2 separate regions of the Homo sapiens genome follow, and region 1 is linked to region 2. The links come from fine-mapping of genetic effects on gene expression. A gene starts in region 2. The other region holds a variant in brackets. All regions are shown on one strand. Distances are from middle to middle.

Region 1 (2,915 bases), 80 kb after region 2:
AATACTTTAGTTAAACTTAAATATAATTAAATAACTAAAGTAGTTTCCCTCTGTTGGATGTAAGCAAGGCATTTTTAAAAGTCATTTTTATGTATTCATTAGCATTTTCAATTACTTTTTCCTTCTTTGTTACTCTTTTTAAGAAATATGATTGAAAATTAGCAATATACTTACTTAAGAAAAGATGTTGGGAAAGAAGATCCTTATTTTATTTTTATTAACTACAGGTTTGTTGAATGAGCTTTCTTGTGTTATATGTCATACTAAGCCCAAAATACATAATTCTGTGGTAATTTAAAAATAAATAATTATATAGGTTTCTCTCTCTCACACACACTCTCTCTGTCTTTAGAAAGATCATTGCTCCTCTTGTAACTCGTCATGGAAAGCTGTGGTCCAATTTCTGGGGAGCATTGAGTCCTGATGGATACTATGCACGATCTGAAGATTATGTGGATATTGTTCAAGGGAATAGAGTGTAAGTTACTTGGTTTAATATTTTAATGTGAAATACCATAATCTAAAGATGTAGTCTTGTTAGTATTACTTGAAATTTTTTTTGCATTCATCTCTTTTCTTTATAGTTAATGGGAATTTGAGAACCCAAGACCACTTGGAATCCTGAAATACTAGTATAAAACTAATATCTTAAAAAAATGTTTTTAAAGTCCCAAATCTTCAAAGGAACAAGCTCATTGCTGTGGGGAATACTAAGAGATAATATATGTTTACCATACTCACATTATGGTTGATAGAAGAGTAATACTCTTTATTTAAAAGCTTGGAAAGGGGATTTAGTTTACTAACTTTTTAATGGTTATAATTAAGGGTTGTTTTGATAGGTTTTAAAATTTATAATTAAGCCAACAGTAACACTAACAGCCAGAACATTCCAGTATTCCTGATTGCATGAGTTTTTTTGTGTGAAATAGCTATTATTCTGCTTTAAATACAAGTTTTTTTTACCAATATTAGATTTTCACTTCTAGAGATTGAAAAGAATATATTTGCTGAAAAGTGTGTGCATGATTTATATTTATTTCAGAGACAATGGTTGATTACTAAAAATAATCACAATTGAAATAGTTTTGCTAAGGTAATATTGGAGAAGAATGTCATTCTTTTTTTCATACATATGATGGACCAGAGTGACTAAGACATTACATGCTTTGCCTTAGTTCTCAAACATGTCAGCCTGATTAAAAAGGGGCAGTATACTCTCAGGACTAAAAGGATGTGCCCTTACATTTAGAAAAAAAAAGGCACACGTTTCTGTTCAAACAGTTGAGTGGTAAAAAGATGTGTTGCTTGTGGAAATAGTAATTGGTGTGGAAAGCTTCAATCTGAATGATGTAAATACAATAAAGGTTTTTGTTAGCTGCAATTAAAATGCACAGTGGAGG[A/T]GAAAAGACTATTAAGATCGTATTCTGTTGTTTCTGTGCAGTTGTATTGACTCTGGGTGAGTTGTATAGACAATATACCTGATTGTATCTTTGGGCACATCACAAATGAGGGTTTGTGAAAGTAGAATGGAAAATTTGTTTCAAGTTGCTTTAGGCATTGGTGATTTTCTGTCCAACCTCCTGTCATTCTTGTCTAAAGTATAAGGAAAAAAATATGGCAGAAGCTTTTGATCTGGAATACACTTCATGTCCAAAAGCTACACGAAGGAGCAACTGTGTGTGTGTGTGTATGTGTGTGTGTATAAGTTGAAACACTGAATAATTCCCCAGAGATTAATTTCTGAATTTAGCTGACACGTTGTATACAGTAATTCCCCTTTATCTATGGTTTTGCTTTCCATGGTTTCAAGTCTACTGTGGATTGAAAATACGAAGATATGTTGAGATAGAGAAAGTGTAAACATTCATGTAACTTTTATTACAGCATATTGTTATAGTTGTTCTATTATTGTTGTTAGTCTTACTGTACTTTATGTATAAATTAAACTTTATTATAAGTATATATGTGTAGGAAAAAACGTAGTGTATGTGTAGCGTTTGTTACTATCTGCTTTCAAGCATCCACTGGGGTCATGGAATGTATCACCCTCACATAAGGCGGGGACTGCTGTACTCCTTAAGGCATTTTTCTTTGAGGCTAGTCTAGTAAGACATAATATCATATTTCCGTTAATATCTAACTGCATTTCTTGGTCAAGATCTTGCCTTGATGTTCTCTAAAAGAAAGGCGCACAGTCTTAGGGGCAAAACTTGTTTTGCAGTTTTTATGAAATCAGTCATGTTCAGAGTGAGAATATAGATGTGGGAAAGGATGCAACGTTCATGTGCTCCCAGCTGTATTTCTTCATGTTTTCCTTTTTCTATAAAATATTTAAGATGGCTTAATGAATGGTAAGAGAATATAATTTTGGAGAATTTTAGGCTATATTCAGTGGTATTTTGGTAAATGTGTAACAACTGGCTTTTGGAGGTGGAGGATTCCCTGATTTAAAGTGCTTGCCCATTTGTTTGGTGTAAATACTTCTACCATGGCTGATTTCAAGTTTCCAATGTGAAATTACTGAACATGGACTTGGCAGAAAAAGTTAACTTTGGGGAGCCAGTATGAGCTGGGTCTAGTGCACCACTGGTTGTATGTTATGATTCATGCTATCAAATTCTTTAATTTTAAATAGAAACACCGTCTATACAATAGATTATAATAGTCTAATTGTAACAACTGATTGAGATATGATAGCTATAATACAAATGCCAAACAGATACCAACCCAAAATTGAAATGTATCCAAAGGGGCAGTGGTTTATCTCCTAAATCTCATTAAATATAGTGTATACAATGTAATCTTATATATATATCATTGAATATATTTGTATGTTGATTCAATAATTTATGTATACAAAATCTAAACACAAAGCATTTATTTTAAAAAGGTAAAAATGAAACTTAAAATTG
Region 2 (2,915 bases):
TTTTAGCTTTTTTTTTCCCCTTCAGACTAAATAAACCTTATTTCATTCTTCTCACAGGTCATAGTTTCCACTTCTTTAATTATTTGTTACTCTTCTCAGAACTTTCTCCAGTTTTCCTCTTCTTTTAAAAAACTGAGACCAAACCTTCAAAACAGAGTAATAACTGGCTTAGTTCTGGGCACAGGAAATGATTCTTTCTAAAATGTCACATCCCAGGCAAGATTTCTTTGCAGGGTTTTCCACCTGTTTTTAATGCTATCAAGATGAAAGCATTAAGTTCATGTTATCTTGATATGTTAATTTTAGACAAAACGTGATCATAATGGAACACATTTTTCCATAATTTTCTGTCTTAATTTCAAAGGCCCAGAGTTATAACGGGTGTTGTCTCGATTCTGTTTTTTTCTAATTTCACGAAAATTTAGGCAGGAGATTCCAGAATGGTAGCAGTTTGGTTCTCTTTCTCCTATAAAATAGCTTATGTCATTAAATGTATGAGGCAAAACTGTCAAGCTTTTTTCTTAATTGTGCTTTTGCTCCCACTCATTCCAACAAGTTAAACCCTTGGCTAGTTAAAATGTGAGAACAGAAAAAAGGGAATTTTCTTAGACATCAGTCAAAAGTGGAAGCAGTGGGGGCCAAGGCTCAGAGATCTCGACCTCTCCGACCACGTCTTTGGGAGTAATTTTCCATGCGGACTGGAGCACGATCTTGTAAGCACAGCCCCGGCATTACACACGTTGGGCTCCGATTCCGCAGGATTTACAAGCCTCATTACTGGAAAGAGTCTAAGGCTCTCTTGGCACAAGCGGCGGAGCAAGAAATGTTCACTGGACAATAAAACTTTCGGTTTACGGAGTAAAATAAAATCACGGCCTTCCTTTTACAGGGTGATGAACCTGCCCCTGAATTAATGAGGGGCGATCCATTTCCATGGCTTAAGAGTCTGGCGAGGTCCCAGTCAGCCAAGATTGCCGCAGATTTGCAGTCACTTCAGACTGGGTGGAGTATCCAAGTCCATAGAAGAGCAAATTCTCACCCTTCGAGGCTGCTGTGGAAGCTACCGGGGCTGGGACAGCAGAGAGGAACCCAGACGGGAACACCGCCCTCCCGCCAGACTCCCGGCGGCTCCTCCTCCCTCTCCCAAACCCACTCCCAAAGCTAAGTGCAGGCTTCCCCGTTCCAGCCAGAAGCGCTGCGTGAGCCTCCACACGTAGCCGCAGGCAGCTCCTTAAATAGCGTCCGCGCTGAGCAAACAGTCCAGACGTGGGGCCCAGGAGGGCGAGCTGAGGCGACCGCACCGGGCGCGCAGCGGCGGCGGGTCAGCCGGCGGCCAATAGCCAGGGCGCGGCCCGCCCCGTCGCCTCCCCTCGGGGAGCCTATAAGGCCTCCGCAGCGCCCCGGGCGCCTGCTGCTCCGTGCCTCCACCGACGACCTCACTCAGCTGCGTTACGCGCCGCTCCGGCTGCCGGCCGCGCGCCTTGCCCGCCGGCTCCCGCCCGCAATCGGCGGCTCAGGGCGGACCCGGGTCTCTGCGTTCTCGCGAGAAGCGCGGCGCTGCGGGGCCGTGGGCGCCTGAGCCCGCGCGGCCCTCGAGGGCCGAATATGGGGGGATGCACGGTGAAGCCTCAGCTGCTGCTCCTGGCGCTCGTCCTCCACCCCTGGAATCCCTGTCTGGGTGCGGACTCGGAGAAGCCCTCGAGCATCCCCACAGGTGAGCACCCCGCGGTCCGCCGCTGTCCCGCGAGGCTCGGCCGGCGGGGGGGCAGTTCATTCATCCACCAGCCCTTCCGCGGGGCTGGCCAGGTGAGTAGTGGGGGCCTGTCCCTCCTCTCCAGGACCGCCGGGGTCTTCCCCAGAATTGCGGTCGGGCGGCGCTGGTCCCTGGGGAAGTGTAGGGGCACCCGCCCTCGTTGACTCCTTGGAGTTCTCGGTGAACTCAGCGTGCCCGAATTTCCCTGCAGAACAAGTTGGAGTTTCCTTTTGGACTTGCAGGTCATGGGCACCAACACCTTTCCTGCAGCTCTCCTTTCCCCTCCTTTCCGAGAGTTGGCATGGATTTATCCTTGATGGACGAGGCAGTACTCCTTCTGTGACCTAAACACGGGGCTTAGTGTACTTTCTAATTGATGGTGACACATTCCTTCCAGCACCCCAGGAAGCAGCCGGTAACACCTCCCTCTTGCCAAAAACAACGCTCGCTCGAAAACCTTAGTTGTTTTCAGTAAGGCTGCCTGGCTACCCAGTACCTCCAGGCGGCAGCTTTCTTCCTTTGGGATCTGAAGGGGAAGCTGTGGACACACAGCTGCTCCCCTTACCTACCCTTTTCTTGAGCCCGGTGCTGTCTCTCGTTTTCAGAAGCTGTGTAAAACAAAACGTTTTATATTTAGCCAGATTAAAGAGAGTTTCACCACGTCTGTCTAAACATGCTTTGCTGCCTTTTGTGGCACATGAAAAATCCTTGGAGTTTTCCACATTTGTGCTCTTTGTGCTCAACTCTCTGAAATTAGATCTTGCATTTAAATGACCTTCTAATGTCCTTTTTGTTTTGTTTTGTTTTTTGTTAAGTCATCTTGGCACCATTTTTTCCCCCAAGTTTATAATAGAGTGCTTTTCTACTTGAACTTTTCTTAAGCCTAAGGACAGAAATTTCTATTTCAGAGTTACATTCAGAAAGTGACATTTGGTTTGCAGTCCAGCTAATCCATGTAGCGATAGTTTTGTCTTCATCTTTAAGTGTTTCAGAAAGCGTCAGCAGGCTGAACTGCCTATCTTTCTACAAAACAGTGCTTGCTTTGTTAGCTTGAGAAACTTCAGCATTCAGATGGATTTCTATCAGTTACAGGATGCTTTTCTTTCTGTTAGGTATATGTGACCATTTAAAAATGGATTTCTGAACCCGTGTGATTCCTCTA

The links. PIP is the estimated chance that this variant, and not a neighbour inherited with it, causes the effect.
Region 1: its variant is fine-mapped to the expression of PLOD2 in spinal cord (GTEx, PIP 0.95).

What each region holds. Positions count from the first base shown.
Region 1 is chr3:146,079,301-146,082,215 of GRCh38, reverse strand. It overlaps PLOD2 (procollagen-lysine,2-oxoglutarate 5-dioxygenase 2), which reads left to right. Exons shown (of 20, transcript NM_182943.3): 12 at 353-478. Among named protein-coding and RNA genes, the nearest start is that of LNCSRLR, 12 kb to the right of the region's middle. The variant A/T (reference allele first, on the strand shown) is at 1,404.
Region 2 is chr3:146,159,680-146,162,594 of GRCh38, reverse strand. It overlaps PLOD2 (procollagen-lysine,2-oxoglutarate 5-dioxygenase 2), which reads left to right and starts at 1,411. Exons shown (of 20, transcript NM_182943.3): 1 at 1,411-1,714. The coding sequence starts at 1,606.